Linked DNA regions of Homo sapiens. The protein of the gene in region 7 purifies or fractionates together with the protein of the main gene of each other region. This does not show direct contact. Each region holds a gene or a part of one and is shown on either strand. Other genes may lie near its edges.

Region 1 (3,500 bases), on a different chromosome or scaffold from region 7:
AGTCTGGCTCCGGTGCCCATACTCCTAACCAAAATTTTATGCTGATATTCACTAGATGCACACACTAATATTACTGCTACTATCAATGGCAGTTAACATGAGTAAGTGCTTGCAATGTGCCAGGTGGCTTCTTAAGCTCTTTATACTTAGTAACTTATTTTACCTCAGTAAGAACCCTAAGAAGCAGGTACTCACTGCCATTTAATACATGAGAAAACTGAGATACAGAGAGATTACATGACTTGTTCAAGGTTACACAGCTGGGATTTGAGCCCAGAGAGATCTAAACTACCACACTCTTCTATTAATACTTCTCTACATCAGGGTAACCAATTACATGCTTAACTTATGCCCATTTCACAGAAAAAACTAAGACTCTAACCTGACAATATCAAGTAGCTTGGAGAGAAGGGCTACTTGACATGAGACAAAGCAAGGTTTTCTGGAGACCAAATCTCAGCAGTGTTGCAAAAGTGGGAGTAGTGGGCACTCGATGCCAGTGGTATTCTCTGATGCAAGAGCCTTGGAACCAACAATTCCTCCTCCCTCCCCCAACCTTTGCCTTAAAAATTCCCCATTCAGTGCAGGCAGATGCCTATAAATTTTCAGATGCCCCTACCTGGTAATGGATGACATGCTGGACTTTAGGAATATCCAGACCCCGAGCTGCCACATCTGTTGCCAAGAGAACACAGCTGGGGTAGAGAGAGAAAGCTTATTAATAATAACTAACAGCTATCTTTAATCAAATTCTTACCAACTGCTGAGCATCCTAAACATTACAGTCCTTACCAATACTCTGTAAGATATCACTTGTATACCCTTTTACAGAAAAACTGAGGCTCGGAGAGATTAACTTCCCAAGCTATCTACATGGCTATTCAGCTGTGGAGTCTGGATCCAAATTTGGGACTCATTGACCCCAACCAACATGCCATACTCTGCAATGATAAAGACTCCCTTCAGTGAGTTAAATGAGGCCATACATATTCTGGGTCAGTGACTCCTCTCCTAGCACCCTCTCATTTACTTCCTCCCAGTGGCACACAGACTTCCTTGCTCTTCCCCAAACAAACCAAGCATGCTCTCACCTCCAAGCCTTTGCACTTGCTACTCCTTAAGGCCTTAAAGGGTCTTGCCTCAGATGTCCATATGACTCACTTCATTACTTTCTTCAGCTCTCTGCTCAATTCTCACTTCATCAGAGACTGACCACACATACCCAATCTCTTTTCTCCAACCCCTGCTCGACTTACTTCTTAGGATCACTTGGCAGACTGTGGGCTTACTTTGCAATTTATTATCTCCCTCTACTAGAATGTAAGCTTCATGAGAGCAAGGACTTTGCATTACTCACTGCTGTTATTACCACCACAGAGAACAACATCTGGTTCATGGTAAGCACTTGATAAATGTGTTGGATGATGTTTCTCAATGTGTGGTTCATGGAAAGTCAAAAGTACTTGAGGTGCTTCAAAACATAAGACTCTGGCCCTTCAGGGTCCTCACTCCCTGCATGTCTGAGCTGAGGCCGGGAAATGCAATGCAAATCCTAGTTTGTAAAACATTAAACTACTGCTCTGGATCAAGGTCAGCAAACTTTTTCTGTAAAGAGCCAGAGAGCATTTCCAGCTTTGTGAACCACACAGTCTCTATGGCAACTATTCAACTCTGCCGCAAAAGAGGATATTGACAATACATAAATGGGTCTTGCTGTGTTCCAGTAAAACGTCTACTAAAAAAACAGGCAGCAGCCAGGTGTGATGGCATGCACTGGTAGTCCTAGCTACTTAGGAGGCTAAGGTGGGATTGCTTGAGCCCGTGAGTTCAAGTCTAACCTGGGCAACATAGCAAGACCCCATCTTAGAAAAAAAAAGGGCAGCAAGCAAGATTTGGCACGAGGCCTATAGTTTGCCAAGCCTTGTTCTAAGCTAATCTCAGTAAACCACTGATACTACTTACCAATTTTTAAAAACCAGTAAATCAAACACTTGTTCTAGAAACTAATTACCCCATGACCTGACAAAACACTGGCAAAAGACACTTTGTAGTCTGCCTCAACTTTCCAGGCCCTCATCTTGACAATCTGCACCCCATTCCCTGAGCATCAGTCTGGTCCAAAGGCAGATGGACAAAGACATCAGGAATAAGAAATAGCATGGGCTCTGAGGTCCGACAGGCTTGTCTGAGGCCCAGCTCTACCACTTCCAGGCAGAGAAACCTTGGGCACACTGATCAGCTTTTCTAGACCTCATTTTTCCATCTATAAATGAGAATAGTGATAATGGTAATAAGTAGTAAAGGGACTAGAAATTATTAAAGCTAACATTTAGCAATATATACATACTATGTGCTAGAGACTGTTCTAAACACTTTACACGCATGAATTTACAATCAATCTTCATAACAACCCTAGAATGGGTTCTATTATTATCCAAATAATGAGAAAATTAAAGTACAGAGAAATTAAATAACTTGACCACCTAAGGAGTGACAGAACTAGGATTTGATTTCAGGCATTCTGGTTCCAGGATCTGTGCTCTTAACCATGAATCTATTCTGCTTCCTCTTAAGGATGTTAGGAGAGTAACTGAATGTGATTCTGAATCTAAAGTGCCAGCACAGGACCTAATCTATTGTCTATACATTCAATATTATGTATTGTCACCTATATTCATTAGTATTGAAGTTTCTGTATGGCATTTAACTGCAACCAAATTCACTAAATGACAGTAACCTTGCCAAATGCTGTGCAAAAAAAAAAAAAGGCTACCTACTACTGAGACAAGGCCCCTATGACAGAAGGTGGCTTTTCTACCATTTCCCCACCATCCTGACCCCTTTTACCCCAGTAACTAACTAGAGGTTAAGCCTCTGGGGACAGTCCTAACTTACTCTTCCAGACGGGCAAACTGCTCCAGGTTTCTGAGCCTCTGCTTCTGGTGCATACAGGCATGCAGGGTCAAGGGCATGATATCAAGGACTTTGAGGAGCCCAGAGAGGCGTTTGATGCAGGAGATACTGTTGGCAAACACTAAGCTGCGGCCTGGATACTGCATCAGGAAGTAGTACAAGTAGAAGTCTTTCTCATCAGTCTCACAATGGATCTTGGTCTCTGTTAGCGTCTCCACCGTGGCCTCATTCCTTGTGAGGTCAATGACCTTGGGCTTGCCCCTCATGCCAATTTTCTGCATAAGGAGGTCAAGTTTGGCTGTTTTATCCATTTTCTTGGTGTGCTTCTTATGAAGGATTCGAGCAGGAGCCTGATGCACCAGGGTGAGTGTGGCAGAAAAAACAAGCGTTTGTCTCTTTGGGTTGTATTGGGAGTCATTGAGCATCTCTAGCAGCTGTGAGAGCTCAGCAAAATGGCCTTTCTCAACCATCCGGTCAGCCTCATCCACTACCAGGCACCTGCAGATCCAGAGAGACCCATATCATTGGTCAGCAGCGGGTTAAGAGGAATCATCTATAGCACACCCTACACTCATCCTAAACACACA
Region 2 (3,500 bases), on a different chromosome or scaffold from region 7:
ATTCACAGTTTCTGCAAACAGACACATGCTTTTCCACTTGTATTTTCTTCACTGATTCACCACATGCATTGCATGTAAAAAATACCATTTTTAGGTAAATGGCTAAATATTCTCTATCCAAGACAGGTTTTAAGTCTTGTCCTAAGGAAAAAAAGACAATTATAATTATAAACTGAAACTTCTCATTTCAATAAATGGCTCATGCCCCTAACTTTTCAACCATAATTTCACATGAAAATAACAGAGTCAAAGTTGATTAGCAATCTACATAAAATTCCACCATTCATATAAGTAAAACTAACATTAACAATGAGAATGGCTAACATTTATTGTGTCCTTACCACGTGCCAGGCACTATTCTAGAGGCTTTACATTTATTCACTTATTCAATCCCCGCAGTAACCCTATGAGGGAAGGACTATTATTGTTCAAAATTTATATGAGGTAACTGAGACACAGAGATTACATAACTTGCCCAAGGATACACGGTTAACAGAACCAGGATTTAAACCTGGCAGATTGGCTCTCAAGATGAAGAGCTTTGAGGGTGTTAAATCTTACTTTCCATAATACCTTAAACTCTCTCTCTGTATATGAAACTTATAGAAGGCATTGCAATTTAGGTGTACACTACAAACTATTTCAGGTCCTCAAATATACTAAGAACACAGCAAGAGGAAAACTGAGTGAAGTTTAGAAAGTGAAGAAGAGGCAATTCTATGGGCACAATTTCTATGGCACTAAAAGCATTCATATCAATATTACTATATATCTACAAAGGTTAAAATGAGGACATGCGCCTCAGCTGTAATGGACAGGGGCCTTCTTCATGTGGCAGCTTGTCAGACAAGTCAGAAAGAAACGGAACCAAGTCCAGGTGTCCCAACTGCTGGGTGCTGAATTACTGGAGTTCACAAACCCAGGTGTCCCGAGCACTGCCCCAAAAAGAAGTATGTCTGCACACGCACATAAACATCATTGTAAAATTTCACAGAAATGCTACCGTGCTCAGGAAAACACAAATTCGTCTAGAAGTGTTAGAGAAGTCACAGTAATTTTCCATACTTACATAATTTTTAATCACTAGATTTTAAAACAGCATTGTTGTTTTACATTATAAGTTTTACAGCAAAAATACTGAGAACTGTTTAACCCAGAGCTTTCTTCCTCATTAGGAAAATAAAGGTGAGGGTCAAGTAAACCGATGCAATTTACTTCAGGGTAGGACTTCATCCAACAAGCTTTCAGTACAAATGATCTACCCTTGGTTTGCAGAGAATTCCCATGCATGAAATCACCGTTGCTCCTCCACCAGCATGTTTTGGATCACTGCCAGTGAGGCCACACCCAAGCAACGACCAAGGTTATTCATGTCCATTCAGCCTTGAATGGAAATGTACATCCTGGCTGCATCTCCAGGGTTCACAAAGGTCCAGCTGGTCTCTTGTGGAGGCCTCTTGCCCTGTGGGACACTATCAGACATCAGCTCAGCTTCTACGCTACATACAAACCACAGACCCCTGATTCCGCGGTCCCAGGCCCCGCTCCTCAGCTCACTATCAGTGTATGTTAGTAAACGGACAGCATGTGGTCAGCTACAACCTAGCACCAAATCCTCAGGAAGGAAAACATGACTACCCTCGATGTGCTGCAGCAACTGTCATCTTCTCATCTGCTTACTGTAAAGATGTGTGATATTGTCAAGCTCCTGGGAGCTGGAATCACGTTTCCCACAACCCAGCTCCCTCAAAGCTTACCATTCTAAAAAAAGGCAGAGGGATGATCAACATGTCAGGCAACAAGAGCAGCTATCCTGCCTGACAAGGGAGAACAAAGGCTGGAATAAGAGCCAACATCACATTCTCAAAGAGCATGGAGGTGCACTTTGGTGTAAGAGCAGGAATAACTTATTAGTCACCAAGAAATAGATTGTCATCACAGGCACAAGGTGAAAGCAGCCGTGATATGCCAAATTATCTGCTGAAAAACGTTAAAGCACTTTTCTAATAAGATACAACAACAAAAAACAGTCTCTGAAACTTAGATACGGCTTAGAGCTTGCCAACCTCTGTTGCTGAGGACAATTCTATTTCTGGATGGAGTGGGAGATGGGAGGAAGAAAGGTTTCGACAAGGCTTAAGAGTGAATTGAGAGATTCCTGTCCCAGCAGGAATTAAAGGCCTAGGAAGGAAGCTGGAAACAAAATATATTGACTGAAAGAAGCAGTGAAAGCAGTGATGTTGACAAAAAGATACTCAAGAGTAACTGTGCCAAACATTCTATCTCTCTGGAGATCGGCTACACACTACAGTGTAATTAAATATCAATTCAGAAGGTGATTAGAATCTGGTTACATGTCCAGCTAAAAAATAACTCTCACATCATTTTCATTTGGTCTTTACTTGTTTAAGGCCAAATGGGTGGATTGCACAGGAAGTCAGAACTGTCTCTTCCTGCCTTCCTCCGGATTTTTACACTTGCCATGAAATGGGAACAGCTCTGTGTCCACTTGCTTGGCTAATGAGCTAATGTCTGTAAGGAGCTTACCTCTCCTTTATTCAGAGCCTGGAGGACAGTCCAGCACCTTGATTACACCTCAAACCCAACCTAGCCCCAGGCGAAAATACCTGTAATTTATGCCATAAACACTTGCTTGGGCTTCAAAGAAAAGCTCAAAACCATCAGAAGCTTCAAAGTCAGCCTAACTGCACAGCAGACAGGGTGTCCCAGGTCTTAGTGCAGGCTTAATATTCGTAAGCGTAAATGCTACAAACTTACAAAAAGCCGTCAGGTGGAAATTCAGTCCCTCTAATGGAAGACAGCAAACATTGCCTAAAACAAAAATGTAAATACTACAAACTTACAAAAAGCCGTCATGTAGAAATTCAGTCACTCCAATGGAAGACAGCAAACATTGCCTAAAACAAAAAAGTAAAACGGTATTGTTCAAATTCCACAAGACTAGATAAGCATGAAGGAAATTTAATTAAACTTTTTTTTTTTTTTTTTGAGAAAGGAGTCTCGCTTTGTCGCCCAGGCTGGAGTGCAGTGGTGCATTCTTGGCTCACTGCAAGCTCCGCCTCCCGGGTTCATGCCATTCTCTTGCCTCAGCCTCCCGAGTAGCTGGGATTACAGGCATCCGCCACCACGCCCAGCTTATTTTTTGTATTTTTTAGTAGAGATAGATGGGGTTTCACCGTGTTAGCCAGGATGGTCTCAATCTCCTGACCTCGTGATCCGCCTGCCTCGGCCTCCCAAAGTGCTGGGATTACAGGCGTGAGCCACCGCGCCCGGCCTTAATTAAATTTTAAATGATGTTTTGGCAAGTTTGGATCATTTATGCTTCTGAAATTATGAAAGCTTAAAACTGCATTAAGATTTTGAGGACACCCAGTCTGCCGGGCTCAGATGTGACAGATTTCAACATCTAGCCCTAAGTGTAAAAAGACAGCAGTTTTTTCATGGGGCTGGATCTAAATAGAGTCCTCTTTTCCTTCCCT
Region 3 (3,500 bases), on a different chromosome or scaffold from region 7:
CTAAAAATATTGGCCTTACCAAGGCCCGAGATATAAATGCTGTGCTAATTGACATGGAAAGGCAGGGGGATGTCTATAGACAAGGGACAACCCCTCCCATATGGCATTTGACAGACAAGAAGCGAGAGAGGATGCAAATCAAGAGAAATACGAACAGTGTTCCTGAAACCGCTCCAGCTGCAATCCCTGAGACCAAAAGAAACGCAGAGTTCCTCACCTGTAATATACCCACATCAAATGCCTCAAATAACATGGTAACCACAGAAAAAGTGGAGAATGGGCAGGAACCTGTCATAAAGTTAGAAAACAGGCAAGAGGCCAGACCAGAACCAGCAAGACTGAAACCACCTGTTCATTACAATGGCCCCTCAAAAGCAGGGTATGTTGACTTTGAAAATGGCCAGTGGGCCACAGATGACATCCCAGATGACTTGAATAGTATCCGCGCAGCACCAGGTGAGTTTCGAGCCATCATGGAGATGCCCTCCTTCTACAGTCATGGCTTGCCACGGTGTTCACCCTACAAGAAACTGACAGAGTGCCAGCTGAAGAACCCCATCAGCGGGCTGTTAGAATATGCCCAGTTCGCTAGTCAAACCTGTGAGTTCAACATGATAGAGCAGAGTGGACCACCCCATGAACCTCGGTAAGAGACCACCCAGGAACTGTACCTAGGGTTGGGGTCAGGTGCTTTTGCTCCTGACGCAGTCTTGGCTGATTTGTGAGCAGTGCTGTTTGGTGGCGCCTATCTTTTCCTCCTTCCCTTCTGCCTTTTAGCTAAATTCCCCTTGATTGGCCCTTTCTCCAGATATTGAGCAGGGAATATAGACCTTGGACCAGCCAGAATCTTGGCTGAACAAGGGGGAGGTTGACTCTGTTGGCTGTAATGAAGCTTCTTTAGAAATGATTGGTTTTGGCCGTACGCGGTGGCTCATGCCTGTAATCCCAGCACTTTTTGAGGCCGAGGCAGGCATATCACGAGGTCAGGAGTTTGAGACCAGCCTGGCCAACATGGTGAAACCCTGTCTCTACTAAAAATACAAAAATTAGCTGGGCGTGGTGGCGTGCACCTGTAGTCCCAGCTACTCAGGAAGCTGAGACAGGAGAATCACTTGAACCCAGGAGGCAGAGGTTGCAGTGAACTGAGATTGCGCCACTGCACTCCAGCCTGGGCCACAGAGCAAGACTCCATCTCAAAAAAAAAAAAGAAAGAAATGATTGGTCTTGGGGGCCGGGGCGGTGGCTTACGACTGTAATCCCAGCACTTTGGGAGGCCAAGGCAGGCAGATCATGAGGTGAGGAATTCGAGACCAGCCTGGCCAACATGGTGAAACCCCATCTCTACTAAAAATACAAAAATTAGCTGGGGGTGGTGGTGCTTGCCTGTAATCCCAGCTACTCGGGAGGCTGAGGCAGGAGAATCACTTGAACCCAGGAGGTGGAGGTTGTAGTGAGCCGAGATTGGCGCCACTGCACTCCAGCCTGGGCGACAGAGTGAGACTCCATCTTGGAAAAAGAAAGAAAAAAGAAAAACATGATTGATCTCCATGCATCAATATCATGCCTGCCTCCTAAGGCAGAGGTAATGAAGACTTAATTCCCTTCTGTAGGCCTTCCCCTCCTCCCTAAGCCGTTTTCTGAGAGAGGTGCAGGAGCAGGTGGGTTGGGGCAGGCTGCATACACAGTGGGGGTGGGTTGTGCTGCTAAGCAGCAGCAGGTCCACAATCCCCCCTCTGCATAGCTCCTGGGGGGAAAGGATGGAGGAGCGTGTGCACGGCTGCCTGCCTGTTGAAGGTGGTGGTTCTAATTTTATAAACCTCCTCTGCACAGATGGGTAGGCTAGCACTTGCTGCCACTCCTGAGCTGTGAAGTCAGCCTTTACCTCACTCAGATAGCTGGTCAGGCCCTGCACTGTAGGTCCTAATAGGCCAGTGGACAGATTGAGGAAAACAGGAGCTTCTGAAGGGCATAACAGAGAGCAAAACCACTGAAGCTGAGTGGCTGCAGCTGCAGCCAGGGAAAGAGCCAGTAGGATGGGGGAGAATTCCACTGACCTTTATGTTTACCTAGCCTGGTTTCTAGGGGTGTAGATTCCTGGCTAGGGCCCTTATTCCTTGTCTTGACTGTCTTCATGACACCAATTTGGCATTTCAGGAGAGCGGTTAAGAAAAGGAGTTGTGTCTGTCCAAAAGCTGGCAAGGCCAGAGCTGGATTGTTTGGGGTAGAGACTGGATGGCCGTCATTCTCTTTTGCCTCCATCCCTCCTCCCCAGAGTTGGAGGAAAGCAGTGGATTTTGTGGTTAGTCATTCTTTGGACTCACACTAAAAGAAACATTGGTGCCATGTTCAAATATATCAGAAGACCTAGGAAATAAGAAATTTGACCTACTTTTCTAAATGAAATCCCAGACTGAGCAAAGAGCTCACCACATTTGAAAGCTTGAACAAAGGGGGCCTAGGCTAAGTCCAGAGGCCTAGAACAAATGCTTTTTTATTTTCTACATAACAAGGGGAAATTCCTTGTTATGTAGAAAATAGCTGGAGACAAATGGTGCTATAGAGTGACTCATAACAAACTACGGTGATATAGGTCTAGGGACAAAAGCAGGCCACTGATAAGTGGCAGATGCCTGATCCCCCTAGGTAGTGGGGAGTGTGAGACTGGGTTATAAGAAGCCTTCACTATCTTTTAGGACCCTCCCTTGAGGAGGCCAGTCTACCACAATTGCTTTAGAATGAAGGTCTTTTGGTTGCTCACAAGACTATAATGGTAATTTTTGGCTCATCATTTTTGTGTGTGTGGGTTTTATCTTAATTCATTGTTAAAGAGATAGTGGGTTTCCCCTGAGCTAGTTTCCTATCATCTGTGCCTATGTTTGCTTCACTGAGCTATGGGGAAAGAGTCACTGGCTGCTTTGTTTACAAAAAGAAAGGACAGGCTGAGCCTTAAGGAGTAGGAAGGAGTTCCTTGGCCTACCCTTCATCTCCACAAGTGAAAAGCCCCTTAGCGTAGCAGAAAATTCCAGGTTGAAGGTCTCTTTGGAGAAGGCAGAAGGAGTGACCTAGACTCCTGTTCACACATCTAATCACTTTCCGTCAAGATTTAAATTCCAGGTTGTCATCAATGGCCGAGAGTTTCCCCCAGCTGAAGCTGGAAGCAAGAAAGTGGCCAAGCAGGATGCAGCTATGAAAGCCATGACAATTCTGCTAGAGGAAGCCAAAGCCAAGGACAGTGGAAAATCAGAAGAATCATCCCACTATTCCACAGAGAAAGAATCAGAGAAGGTAGGTGTCCTCCTGCCATCTGGGAGGATCAGTTCCCTGTCAGTGTCTGGATTGTAACTGACTCCCTTGAGGCAATCCCAGCCTAAACAACTGACACCATCTCGGAGTCAGCTTCCCACTCTTCCCTCTACCCTATCTCGCCAGCCCACCTTTCCTCCTCTCATACCCAGCTCCTCTGTCTGCTCCTGTCCCAACATAATTGGATTTACAGAATT
Region 4 (3,500 bases), on a different chromosome or scaffold from region 7:
GCAGTGAGCCGAGATCATGCCACTGCACTCCAGCCTGGGCAACAAGAGCGAAACTCTGTCTCAAAAAAAAAAATAAAATAAAATACAGATGAAATTGTACTTAGATCATGGGTCGGTGGGGAGAATGTAAAGAGGTAGCACATGAGAAGGTGGAGCCCGTGCTGGCAAGTGGCAGAAGTGTCACGGGTTTGAGTTTGGATTTGCAGCCTCCTTCTTGAGCTGCTGGACCCCAAGTGTTAGAGCCCAGGTGCTTACAATCTCCGGGGCTCAGCCTCGTGGGTAGCAGAGGATAGGCTGCTATCCTTTTTCTGAGATGGAGTCTTGCTCTGGAGTCACCTGAATGCCCCTTGAGCTCTTCCCACACCCAACCACTGGCAAGGCCTGGAGCATCTGCCCCATGGCTGTGTCCTGGGTCACCCGCAGCCCCAACGCACGGCCTTACCCTGCCTCGGCCTTTTCTCCACAGCGGCCAGCACGCCTGCACACCAAGCCGTCCCAGGCACCCGCCGTGGAGGTGGCGCCTGCCGGAGCTTCCTACAATCCATCCTTTGAAGACCACCAGGTACACTGCCCCGTCCAGGCCTCCCTCCTCAGTGGGCTCTGCCTCTTGGTCAGGCCTTCACTAGCTTCCTCCCTGTGCTGGGAACTCCAATGACCCAGACAGCCCTGGGCCTGTCCGCAACGGGGCTCACGGTCCAGTGCAAGAGACCTGTTCCCAGACAGTGATGGGCAGAGTGGTTGGGGCTGGGAGCCCAGACGGGGCACCTGGCCCAGCCTGGGGGGTCAGGAAGGGCTCCCGGGAGGAGGGGTCGCCTGAGCCGAGGCAGAGGCTGAGGGAGGGGTTTGCAGTGGGAGGAGGGGAGTGGGTTTTCCAGGTGGTGGGAACAGCACTGCAAAGGCACAGAGTTGAGAGAGACCGTGGCGCCTTCCAGGAAGCCTGTGGGGCAGAGATGAAAAAGGCTGTGGTGACACGGTGGCACACTGGCAGCCAAGTGACAGTTATATATGGGCGAGGCTAGCTCAGCGATGGGAAAGTCTAGCTGGAGCCACTGTGCATTTAGCGGGCATCTGTTGAGCACAGATGCTGTGGACAAAGGGGACAAAAACCCCTCCCTTGGCCGGGTGCGGTGCCTCACACCTGTAATCCCAGCACTTTGGGAGGCTGAGGCGGGCAGATCATTGGAGGTCAGGAGTTGGAGACCAGCCTGACCAACATGGTGAAACCCTGTCTCTACTAAATACAGAAAATTAGCAGGGCATGGCAGCACGCATCTGTGGTCCCAACTGCTTGGGAGGCTGAGGTGGGAGGATTGCTTGAGCCCAGGAGGTCCAGGCTGCAGTGAGCTATGATCGCACCACGGCACTGCAGCCTGTGTAACAGAGCGAGACTCAAAAAACAAGCACAACCCTCCCTCAAGGAACAGCCCTTCTCATGGGGTCACGTGACTGGAGAGATGCTGAGATGTTTGCGGTAGATGCAGGACCGCTTGTCCGAATCGTTTTCAGCATTCATAAGAAGGAGATAGCTAGCCAGGAACAGAGGCAGCTTCCTCATCTGGTAGAGAAAAGTGTCTGCGGAAAAAAGCAACAGTGTGCTCATGGTTGAAAGCGTGAGGGTGCCGCTCACTGCCATCTGTTCCTGGACCAGATGTGGGAGGGGGCGTGGAGATCAGACATTCACTTTTAGATTTGTACAGAACTACTTCGTAGAGATAAAATTCACTTAACCATACGGTCAGCCTAGTTAGAGTATGTGATTCAGTGGCTTTTAGTGACCATTGTGTAACCATCCCCGCAGTCAATTTTAGAACATTTTCACTGTCCGTAAAGGAAACCTCACACATGTCAGCCATCACCCCCGCAATTCCCTGTCTCGTGTGGTCTTGGGCTGCCAGGCTTCCTGTCTCAGGGACCAGCCCACCCTGACCAATTCACATAGATGAAACTGTGGGCCGGGCATGGTGGCTCACACCTGTAATCCCAGCACTTTGGGAGGCCGAGGTAGGTGGACCACCTGAGGTCAGGAGTTCAAGACCAGCCTGACCAACATGGAGAAACCCCATCTCTACTAAAGTTACAGAATTAGCCGGGTATGGTGGCACATGCCTGTAATAGTAGCTACTCGGGAGGCTGAGGCAGGAGAATCGCTTGAACCCAGGAGGCGGGGGTTGTGGTGAGCTGAGATCACACCATTGCACTCCAGTCTGGGCAACAAGACAGAAACTCTATCTCAAAAAAAAAATGTGAAGCGTGCAGGTCAGACTGCCTTCACAGACGTGCAGAGCAGGTGTGAGGGCGAGGGTTTGAGGTGCCCTCTGGCTCTGTGCAGGGTGGGTGTGCTGGTAGACGGGGTGTGGGGAGGAAAGCCTGGGCCGGGGCGGGATCCACGGGCACTGGATGAGGGACAGATGGGAGGTAAGAGGGTCTAGTCTCAGTGTCCCAGGAGGGGTTCAGGGACCCATCCTCACTCCCGCCCCTCAGACCCTGCTCTCAGCGGCCCACGAGGTGGAGTTGCAGCGGCAGAAGGAGGCGGAGAAGCTGGAGCGGCAGCTGGCCCTGCCCGCCACGGAGCAGGCCGCCACCCAGGTGAGCCCCGCACCTGCCCACTCCCTCCCCTCCCCGGGCCTCCTACCCACCCCTGACACTGCACCCCGCCTCCCCAGGAGTCCACATTCCAGGAGCTGTGCGAGGGGCTGCTGGAGGAGTCGGATGGTGAGGGGGAGCCAGGCCAGGGCGAGGGGCCGGAGGCTGGGGATGCCGAGGTCTGTCCCACGCCCGCCCGCCTGGCCACCACAGAGAAGAAGACGGAGCAGCAGCGGCGGCGGGAGAAGGCTGTGCACAGGCTGGTGAGCGCCTGGGCCAGCGGGGCCTGCCTCTGATGCCTCGCCCCCTTCCTTCCTTCCTCCCACCATGGGCTGCCCTGGGTGCTGCGGGCAGCCTGCACACCCCAAGCCCCGCATGTGGCCTGTGGTTTGGGCTGTTTGGGATCCTCACAGCTGAGACTCATTTCCCAGCCTCTTCCAGGCAGGGCTCGGGCTGGGGTGGGACAGGGTCCCTGGCGCTTCTGTTTGAGGGGCGGGGTGGGGGGAGGTTTCTGCACCGCAGACCAGGGGAGATGGATGACAAAAGGGGCTTCAGCAAACAGCTGCTGGGAAGGCACTGGAGGGGCCGCTGATGTGACGGGGTTAGGAAGGGCCTCCGGGGACAGGCAGGTTTGTGCAGGGAAGGCTCCCTGTGTAGAGAGAAGGTCTCCCTGTGTGGGCAGCACCGGCCTGAGCCCTGACCCTCCCCCGTCTCCACAGCGGGTACAGCAGGCCGCGTTGCGGGCCGCCCGGCTCCGGCACCAGGAGCTGTTCCGGCTGCGCGGGATCAAGGCCCAGGTGGCCCTGAGGCTGGCGGAGCTGGCGCGGCGGCAGAGGCGGCGGCAGGCGCGGCGGGAGGCTGAGGCTGACAAGCCCCGAAGGCTGGGGCGGCTCAAGTGAGAACCAGGCCGGGGGTTC
Region 5 (3,500 bases), on a different chromosome or scaffold from region 7:
CTTTGAAAATTAATTTTATCTTGCAAAAGAAAAAAATATGCTTCTCACCTTGCAATCACACTTTTAGAAATCTGATAGAAATAATTACATCAGATAAATACATAAAGATATTCACTATAGCATCATTTGTAATAGCAAAAAAAGAAATAACCTATATCAAGAGAAATAGAAAGAAGCAGAAAAACCAGACTGCCTACATTTGAATATCACTTCTACCACTGACTGGCACTGCTACTCAAGCCAAGACACTTAACCTCTCTGGACCTCAGTTTTCCCACATGTACAATAGGAACAAGAATAGTAGCTACCTCAGAGTTATGAAAATTAAATTTTTGTAAGGCATTTATAACTGGAAGGCACATAGTCAGAACTATGGTGTTTGTTAAGCAAAGAATTAAATAAACCTTACATAAAGAGAGTAGTGACATTATAATGTGTTTACCATGATTAAATGCTAAGGTTAAAAAAGTGGTAGAATATATAGCATAATCCTCTTTCCATTAAAATACAAAGTTGAGTTGTTTCTATGTGTATGTGTTTATATATGAACTTTAAAAGGCTGCTGGAAAAATACCCACCAAATGGTAAATGGATACCCACCTAATGACACTGAGAAGTGTCAATAGGTATAAAATGCTTTTTTTCAATTTTATATACCTCTTTTGTCACCTGATTTTGTTACAAGTGTGAATTACTTCTGTAATTGAAATAATATAAAAGGGGGGAAAAGACATGCCTCAAACAAAAAAAATCATTGCATTATAAGAACTTAGCTCTGTTCATTTGTATCACTACTTACATGCATTAATATTCTGGTAGTTGCTAAAATGCCAATACTTGAATTTGGAAGAACATGAAGAGCAAGGGTACAAAGGCGTTTGATGAAGGCAAGAGCTCGCTGCTGAGAAACTTGCTTTCTGCGCTTAGTTAGCATGACATCAAGGCACTGGAGTACAATCTCAACACCTTCATTGGTAGCACCTAAAACAGCAGACATATTCTTCAGAGCTGTTCTCATTACTTTTTCATTACGCAACTGGACTGAACTTCAGATAAACCCAAGATAAACTTTTGTACCTGTCCCAAACCATTTCTCTAATCAATGAGGTAGTGCTATACTGCTAAGGAGATACAGCGGGCTATACTTACTGCATCTCCAGTCAATTCCAGAAGCTCTTTCTCCAAGTCTTACATAAGATTAAATACAGATGCATGGCACTGGAAAGTCACCATTTTATGTACCTGTTCCTATTTCTCATTTGTCTACAATGATGGGTCATAACATATTCTTAAAACATAAATACATATAAAAGAAACATTATCTAAACATACATACCTGCATGTAATTTGAACAGTGTTTTGTAGAGATGTGTGTAGAATTTCAATGGATCAATATTCAGAACATCACCTTTGAAATGACAACAAACACCAATTAGGTATGTTATAGCATTCAAAGGTAAGGCAAACAAAACTTGATTAAGAAAATATCATACCTTGTCCAGAAAGAATATGAAAAGCAGTCTGGACACAGTGAAGACTTTCTTGATAGCTTAGGTCCTTTAAAAAAAAAAGGGGGGGGTGAGGGGGATGGAATATTAAGAATGGTAATTGCCATTTATAGCTTTAAAAAAGAACTTTAAGGCCAGGAGCAAAGACTCAAGCCTGTAATCCCAGCAATTTGGGAGGCTGAGGCAGGCAGATCATTTGAGCCCAGGAGTTCAAGACCAGCTTGGGCAACATGGCAAAAACCCATCTCTCAGGGCCGGGCGCGGTGGCTCACGCCTGCAATCCCAGCACTTCAGGAGGCCGAGGCGGGCAGATCACGAGGTCAGGAGATCAAGACCATCCTGGCTAACACGGTGAAACCCTGTCTCTACTAAAAATACAAAAAATTAACCGGGCATGGTGGTGGGCGCCTGTAGTCCCAGCTACTCGGGAGGCTGAGGCAGGAGAATGGTGTGAACCCGGGAGGCGGAGCTTGCAGTGAGCCGAGATCACGCCACTGCACTCCAGCCTGGGTGACAGAGCAAGACTCCCTCTCAAAAAAAAAAAAAAAAAAAATTTCTACAAAAAAATAGAAAAATTAGCCAGGTATGGTGCCCCACATCTGTAGTCCCAGCTACTCAAAAGGCTAAAGTGGGAGGATCACCTGAGCCCTGGAAGGTCAAGGCTGCAGTGAGCTGTGATTGCACCACTGCACTCCGGCCTGGGCAACTGAGTGAGACCCTATCTCAAAAAAGAAAAAAAAGACCTATAAAGGTTATCTTTAAGATAACCTAGTATGAGGCAGATTTACAGGGTGACTATAGTTTACAATAATCTATTATCTATTTCAAAATAGCTAGGAGGGAAGAATTTGAATGGTTGTCACATAAAGACACATATTTAAGGTGACTGATATCCCAAGTAAAATATTTACAAACTATATTATATGAATATATTTAATTATCACATATACCCTGAAACCATGTACATCTATTATGCATCAATTTAAAAAAAAAAAAAAGAAAACAGGTCAGACAACCCTCCTGCTTAAAACTCTCCAATGGTTGAAAACGTTCTACATCTTGACTGTGGTGGTAATCATATGATCATAGGCCTTTGTCAAAATTCATAAACTGTACATCTAAAAGGGGTTTTACTGTATACAAAATATATCTCAATAAACCTGAAAAATTTTTAAAATAGTAATTACCATTTATATCTTTTAAAAAATAATTTATTATTACTTACACCAGACTCAATGAGAGTATGAAGAACTACTAACAGATCATCAAAAAATTCCACATTTATAAGGTGAGCAAACCTGGAATCAAACAAAACAGTTAATCAGTGAACTAAAAGCAGAAATAAAGCTGGTAGAAATTAAGCTTGACTTTAAAACTGTATTTTTAATATTCTTTATTTCGAAATGTTAGCTATGAAAGACATGGCAATTATTGATACTTTTCATTAATTCAGATTGGCCTCTTCAACAATTCATACACCATTGAACACTAAACTCAGTAGAAATATATAAGGCACTGAACAAACCAAAAATATTTCAAAAATCCTTCTGCACTGAGAAAGAAATTACTAGAAGCAAACAACTTCCTGAGGAAAGTTTAGGAGGTATCCGGCAGGATCGGCTTCTAAGAAAACAGGTGGTGGGAAGAGAGACAAGGAAAGATTCTGCTACTTACAAGAATATGGACCTTATGACAGCTTTAAGGATAAAATGGAAAGAATACTGGACCCCAGTATCTAGTTCAGGCTCTGCTCTTAATTACCTGCGTGATCCTAGGTAACTCACTTCACTGTCCTGGGCCTCTATTTGTAGAAATAACTGAGACCACCCAATAGGGTTAAAGAAGAATCATATGAGCTGCTAAATTTGAGAGTTACTCCATATACTATAGTAGACACTGAAGTAGGTTAAAGTCAGGACATCTCTTCAATATTAGCAAGAAGTCTTTGATCTATGTAAATCTTAGAAGAATAAAAGACCTTATGAGTGACAT
Region 6 (2,664 bases), on a different chromosome or scaffold from region 7:
AGTGAAAATAAACGATTGGCTCTTATCAATCACTTGCACCAACTAACCGTTTGTATTTTCTTTACCGACCTTTCCCTTTTGGGATATGTGGTCTGGTGGGCTGGGAGGCTTACAGTGTCCCAACTCTCCATTTTCCTGTGCCTTTGTGCTGTTTGGCTGAGGCATGGAGACTGCCAGTGGGTGGTTCTATTTTACAGGATTCCCAGGCCAAGAAAGCCTGGGGACTGTCCTTGATGGCAGAGCAGAATAGCCTGCCCCTTCTATAGACCCATTGATTAATTCCTGTAAAATCTTGGGGAGAATGGGATTGCAGCCCTCAGCCTAAAGATTGTGATTTGCCAGTCTCTAGTCTCTGTCTTCCAAGGTTGAGAGAGGTGGGAGGTCTCTGAAATCATCCCTGTTAGAGTGTCTGTCCTCTTACAGTGCGAGAGAAGGAACGTTTCTCAGGGTTTCAGCTCACACGAAAACACAGCAGGATTCTTTTCACTGCAGCGGGATATGTATATAGGTGAATCCTGTGGTGTGGGCTCACAGGCCCAGGTGCTGAGAATAGCAACTAGCAACTATTTTCTACAGTGTGGAGGGCTCGTGCCCTGCTGGTTTTTTTGATACACAGGTAGAGAATGAATAGAAGAGGGGAGGGTGGTGGGGGGGGGTGGGAGGCAGCTCAGTGGGGCTGCTGAACCTTGGGAAGAGTGTGAGTGTGAACGTGTGTAAATGTGCGTGTGAAAGGGAGCACCCCTTCCCGACTTCTAGAAACAAAATTCCTTTTGGGGCGCTTTCCCTGTGTGTCCCCAGAGAGGCCTCTAGCCAGGAGCCTTCAGTTGGGATAGTTTCATTTGTGACTTTACCAATACCCTCCCAGTTCTTGATAGACAGCTGTAGGTTGCTGGGTTCAAGAATATGGGTGGGATATGGAATGCTCTTTCAATGTCTAGCTTCAGTTTTCATTCATCCTCCTGCTCAGCACTGTCAGCCAAGAGCTTACTCAGCAGACACCACATACTGCAGCAGTTCCTAGTGAGAAAATCTGTGCCACTAGAAAATGCTTCACTTCCATTTCCTCACCTGGGCAGTTCTCTGTTTAAAATTGTGGGCTGATTTGGTCTTCCTCTCCTCCTCCCACTGTTACTGCCCTGCAGCCCTTGTTCAGGTGTACAGACCCTTATTCTGGCCTCTAGTGTCCTTGTCTGTCATGACACACCCTTCCGCCCAAATACCTCTGACCCCAAGGCTGGAATGGGGCTGGTAGGAGATAAGTTTGCTTACTCATAGTCATGTCCTTTCTCTTGGCACCTGCTTCCCTGCGGTGTCCTCAAATGGATTTCTGTGTGGCAGTGGAGTGATTGCATGAATTTTTCTGTAACACATTAACTTTGTATTATTATTAAGGGAGTTTGAGAAAGCTTTGCTTATAATGTCAAGGCAAGGAGGTAAAAACTGGAGCCCAAAGAAATTCCCTTAGGGCAAGATTATGTTATAATAGAAAATTGAATTTCCTGAGGCAGTGGCTGCCACCCCTTTTCAGATGTTTAGTCCTGCAAATAGCATCTTTCTTGTAGTCTGTGACATGGATGGGGATGCTAGGGCCCTTAGGGGCAAGGGGACTAAACTAAATCAAGTTGAGTTTTTTTCCAGCAGGGGTTAGGGGAGGTACTCGCTGTTGATATTTGACACTAGAAAGTAATCTTTTTTACAAAACTGTTTTTCTAGGTGGGTGGAAAGTGAAACTGCCACATCCTTGTTGGTTTAGTCCAAGAGATCATTTGCAACAACAGTAGATGTCCGGGTTTTGTTTCTGTCTTTTTATTATGAAAAACTATGTTAAGGGGGAAAATGTGGATTATGGTAACCAGAGGAATCCCTAGCCTTGTTTTCCTTAGAAGACTTGTTTAGTGTTTTATCAGACGTCTGTTGTAGTTGTAGACAGGAAAGCTTGTGAGAAAAACACCACATGGAGCCTGTAAATGTTTTTGCACAACCTGTAAAGCATTCTTGGAAGTGGCCAGTAAAAAGGGGTTTTACCATTTAAAAAAAAAATGTAACTGTGTCATTGTTTACATCTGTAACTTTTTCCTCCCCTGTTCTCATTACACCATTCTGGCGAAAATGTAGGCAAAGTAGCTTCCAGTTTTAGAATAAATAACCATTTGGATTGAATTCACCCTATCTCCTGTGGCTGCACTGACTGGGGCGGAGGGTGTCACTGGGTTATTTATTCATTTTTTAATGCCTCTTTCTCAGGTCGCATGGGCTCCAACCAAGGAGGACTCTCCTCTTGCATGGTGGCTGCCGTTCCCTCCCTATTCTACCATGCCTTCACTTGGGAGCCAGCCATGCAGTCAGTTGACATGGGTGGGTAGTTATTAGTCTATTTAGTGCTTGCTTAGGCCAAGAGTCGAGCCATTGAAGTATAGGAAAATAAATTATAACTCACGACCTCTGTATTTGGCCTATGCAAAAACTAGTTGGATGCTTGAAGTTAAATGTACATTGTGGAGCCAAATAAGTATATTCATGAATAATTACTGCTAGGGGGAAAGCCCACTCATTCAACAGAAGTTTGATGGGGGTTATTTTCCAGTGAATCTGGAGAACGAGACGGTAAATTAAATTTACAACAGCGCCATTGCTTTTTTATTTTTTATTTTTATTTTTATTTTT
Region 7 (3,500 bases):
AGGTTCAGGGTGCCTCCTTCTTTTCAATCTGATAATGGTCCTGAATTCATTTCTCAAATTACTCAAACACTTGCACAAGCCCTACGAATCACCTGGAAGCTACACATCCCCTATCAACCCCAGTCTTCAGGAAAGGTTGAAAAAATGAATGGCATTCTAAAAATCACCCGCACCAGGTACTCACTCCAAACACATAAAGACTGGGTTACACTTCTAGCTTTGGCCCTCCTAAAAATTCGGGCACTCTCACGTAAACCTTTAATGCTCATCCCCTTTGAACTCATGTATGGGAGTTTTGAGCATAAGTATTTGAACTCATGCTCCTTTTGTTCCACCTCAGGGTCAAGCCCCACCTCTAACAACCCCTCTCATTTCTCCTCTTCTGCATATCATCTGCCATTTCATTTGGGAATATGCTGACAAAATACAACTCCTTTAATCCCTTCCTACAGTCAGGAAACTGGGTTCTGGTAAAAGGTCCCAGCCCTACCCCCAATTCCCCCCTCACACCAAAATGGAAGGGGCCTTACCAGATCTTCCTCACTACACCCACAGCAGCAAAGCTCCAGGGACTCCCCAGCTGGTTTCATTATACTTCTCTCAAGAACACAGACTTCCCTTCACTACACATCCAAACAATCAAATCTAAACCACCTTCAGCCTCTCTTGTGTCTCCACAGGATCCACTTCCCTTCATCTCACATGAATGCCGGAGGAAAAGGAAGAGAAATTCACCTAAGCAGCTATGTCTCTTTCTCTCCCAAACTTTCATTGCTTCCTAACTAGCCTTGTTACAGACCTTCAGTGGTATCCTTATGAAACTCTCATTATACATCCTGATCAGCTCCTTACTATTCCACGGGATTTATGGCTTCAAGGAACCTTCCAGGACTTTATTCCTACCCAAACTTTTTCCTCCTTTTGTTGTTTCTTTCTATCTAAATTCCCTAATCACATCAACCTCACCGATACAACCACTCCTCACTGCTATCAAACTAGAACGTTCTATAAACCTTACACAACCCCTCTTGCTGCAAGCTAACTCTTCCTTTGCTCCAGAATGCTGGATGTGTTTATCGCTGTCTTCTTCAGCTTATACATCCCTTCCTACACCCCTTCATGACCTTTTAACAGAAAACGTAACCCTAATCTATAAACTCCAAAAAGGAGCTTCCTTTTTTGAAAGAGCTGACAGTCTGGTTGGCGATTATCCCACTTCCAAGGTCAATCAGGCCAACACATTATTTCAAACCTATTACAACTCCCTACAACGCCTTAAGCCACAAGGCCCTCCCATTGAAGGGCCCATAATTAAACACACCCCACTTTTACAACAAGCCTCACTTTGCTTTTCAGCCTCTGAGGGAAATTTCCGTGTAAGATCCTTAAACCTAACCAATGCAACCGCATTATCATTGTTAAACACCCTGCTGACCATCAAACTAACCGAGTTGACTACCAAGTATCACCTGAAACGAATGGAGCATTTCTGCAACCTGTTCGTTTTGCAGCCTCTCCCTCAACCAATGCCTCTGGCCTAATTTGTGCTGCCCCTAGCGCCCACCTTTATCCATGGCTCAACATCAATGCAATGGTGCAACATCAAATCGTATTAAATGTGTAAAAAATAACTCTTCCTATATCGCTACTATAGTGGGTGTCTCCTTGACCTCCTCCTTGACCACCTGGAGTAATGAACCATAGGAAAGAAAAAACACCCATCTTTAATTCACTTGTTTTCTTTCTGTATCTCCAACTGTATTTATGACAAAGGCTTATTTTTTGTGTGAGTGGCACCAACACATATCTTTGTCTCCCCACTAACTGGACTGGAACCTGTACCCTAGTTTATCTTTCTCCCTCCATTGGACTAATTCCTCCTAGCCAACCTTTGCCCATTCCATCCATCCAATACGTTAGGAAGAGGAGGGCCATCCACGTCATTCCTTTAATGGCTGCCTTGGATATAACCTCCAGACTTGGATTGGGAGCAGGCAGATTGGCCACTCCCTTAACATACTTTAAAGCTCTTTCCACAGAATTACAGGGTTCTTTAGAAGATATAGCCTGAAGCATTATAAGAGTCCAAGACAAACTAGACTCCTCGGCTGGAGTAGTCCTCCAAAACAGATGGGGACTAGATCTAATAATGGCTGAAAAAAGGGACCTCTGCCTCTCATTGGGTGAGGAATGTTGCTTTTATCTCAACCAATTGGGCCTAGTAAGAAACGCTGATGAAAAACTTAAAGAAAGGGCTAAAAAGCTAAGGGAGTATCAAAACAACCAACTAGATTCTTGGTTTGGGAACAAAATCATAATATGGGTCATCCCATTCCTGGGCCCCCTCTTAATGATAAGCCTAAGACTATTGTTCTTACCCTGCGTAGTTAATCTTATTCAAATATTTTTAACTGACAGGATCATGGCCATTTCACAGACAACTACCAAAAACATCCACCGACAGCATTACCCCTTCTTCTTTCTTCAGCACTTAAAATCTTACCTCTTGTCCACAGTATACTTTGTTTCTTTCATGTCAGGAAGGTCAAATCTGGGTGCCAAAGATCTAAAAATTAAGAGTTGAATGTAAAACTCAAATAAAATTGAAATCAAATATAACTTATTTAGTGTTAATGTTAACCTTTTTCTTTCTTTTTTTTTCTTCAGAGGCAAGGTCTCACCCCATCTCCCAGCCTGGAGTGCAGTGGTGTGATCATAGCTCACTACAACTTTGAAATTCTGGGCTCAGAGGAGATCCTCCCACCTCAGCCTCCCAGGTAGCTGGGATTACAGGCATGTGCCACCATACCTGGCTAATTCTTTTTATTTTTAGTAGAGACAGGGTCTCTTCATGTTACCCAGTCTGGTCTCGAACTCCTGGACCCAAGCCATCCTCCCACCTTGGCCTCCCAAAGTGCTGGGGATCACAGGCGCAAGCCACAGCACCCAGCCAACTTTTTTCTTTATAAAACTATATACTTACCGTTCTCCTCTGGCCTCTAATACTTTTTCATCCCTCCTCTGGTTCCTTTTTCCACCTTAGAGTGCTCATTGTTGATGCGTCACTAACCTCTCCTTTTCCTCCTCCAGACTCAAAACCTCAGGAAGTACATCTCCTTACACCCTCATCCTAGCTGTTATTCCTTACTGATGATAAGCCACCTGCAAATGGAAGTTTAAATACCACCTAAAACTAAACATATCCAAACTGCTGTCTTCTCTCTAAGCCCTTAACTCCTTAACTTCCTTAACACCATTAGTGCCATGGTTCTTGACTGCATCCTGTTCAAAGTGAAGCAATCTTCAAATCCTTTCTCCTTTACCTCTCCTTCATGCTTTCACTCAGCTACGGGGAACCTATTCCCTCAAGTCATGTCCACTCTTCCTTTACAGTCTTTCTCACACATTCTCCTCATCCCTCCTGACTGCCACAGTAATCGTGGCTGAGGGCACCTCATGTGCAGAACTCTCTTCTCTCCATCCAAGCATCCACATCAAGA

The links.
Region 1: the proteins of EIF2AK2 (region 7) and DDX24 purify together in Homo sapiens (affinity purification with mass spectrometry; one large-scale study listed by BioGRID and IntAct). This does not show direct contact.
Region 2: the proteins of EIF2AK2 (region 7) and LYAR purify together in Homo sapiens (affinity purification with mass spectrometry; 2 studies listed by BioGRID and IntAct, with this or other methods). This does not show direct contact.
Region 3: the proteins of EIF2AK2 (region 7) and ADAR purify together in Homo sapiens (affinity purification with mass spectrometry; 3 studies listed by BioGRID and IntAct, with this or other methods). This does not show direct contact.
Region 4: the proteins of EIF2AK2 (region 7) and NOP53 purify together in Homo sapiens (affinity purification with mass spectrometry; 2 studies listed by BioGRID and IntAct, with this or other methods). This does not show direct contact.
Region 5: the proteins of EIF2AK2 (region 7) and NOC3L purify together in Homo sapiens (affinity purification with mass spectrometry; 2 studies listed by BioGRID and IntAct, with this or other methods). This does not show direct contact.
Region 6: the proteins of EIF2AK2 (region 7) and HNRNPUL2 purify together in Homo sapiens (affinity purification with mass spectrometry; one large-scale study listed by BioGRID and IntAct). This does not show direct contact.

Annotation. Positions count from the first base shown.
Region 1 is NC_000014.9:94,057,203-94,060,702, forward strand, and holds part of DDX24 (ATP-dependent RNA helicase DDX24), read right to left. Parts: intron 3,412-3,500; coding exon 2,896-3,411; intron 696-2,895; coding exon 620-695; intron 1-619. UniProt on the Homo sapiens protein: ATP-dependent RNA helicase that plays a role in various aspects of RNA metabolism including pre-mRNA splicing and is thereby involved in different biological processes such as cell cycle regulation or innate immunity.
Region 2 is NC_000004.12:4,283,655-4,287,154, forward strand, and holds part of LYAR (cell growth-regulating nucleolar protein), read right to left. Parts: intron 2,919-3,500; 5' UTR 2,865-2,918; intron 142-2,864; 5' UTR 89-141; coding exon 1-88. UniProt on the Homo sapiens protein: Plays a role in the maintenance of the appropriate processing of 47S/45S pre-rRNA to 32S/30S pre-rRNAs and their subsequent processing to produce 18S and 28S rRNAs. Also acts at the level of transcription regulation.
Region 3 is NC_000001.11:154,598,187-154,601,686, reverse strand, and holds part of ADAR (double-stranded RNA-specific adenosine deaminase), read left to right. Parts: coding exon 1-646; intron 647-3,101; coding exon 3,102-3,285; intron 3,286-3,500. UniProt on the Homo sapiens protein: Catalyzes the hydrolytic deamination of adenosine to inosine in double-stranded RNA (dsRNA) referred to as A-to-I RNA editing.
Region 4 is NC_000019.10:47,752,046-47,755,545, forward strand, and holds part of NOP53 (ribosome biogenesis protein NOP53), read left to right. Parts: intron 1-466; coding exon 467-562; intron 563-2,481; coding exon 2,482-2,586; intron 2,587-2,663; coding exon 2,664-2,846; intron 2,847-3,302; coding exon 3,303-3,478; intron 3,479-3,500. UniProt on the Homo sapiens protein: Nucleolar protein which is involved in the integration of the 5S RNP into the ribosomal large subunit during ribosome biogenesis. In ribosome biogenesis, may also play a role in rRNA transcription.
Region 5 is NC_000010.11:94,338,940-94,342,439, forward strand, and holds part of NOC3L (nucleolar complex protein 3 homolog), read right to left. Parts: intron 2,807-3,500; coding exon 2,734-2,806; intron 1,558-2,733; coding exon 1,494-1,557; exon of another isoform or gene 1,489-1,493; intron 1,409-1,488; coding exon 1,337-1,408; intron 982-1,336; coding exon 800-981; intron 1-799. UniProt on the Homo sapiens protein: May be required for adipogenesis.
Region 6 is NC_000011.10:62,712,130-62,714,793, reverse strand, and holds the end of HNRNPUL2 (heterogeneous nuclear ribonucleoprotein U-like protein 2), read left to right. Parts: 3' UTR 1-2,164; downstream 2,165-2,664.
Region 7 is NC_000002.12:37,132,981-37,136,480, forward strand, and holds part of EIF2AK2 (interferon-induced, double-stranded RNA-activated protein kinase), read right to left. Parts: intron 2,567-3,500; coding exon 2,504-2,566; intron 1-2,503.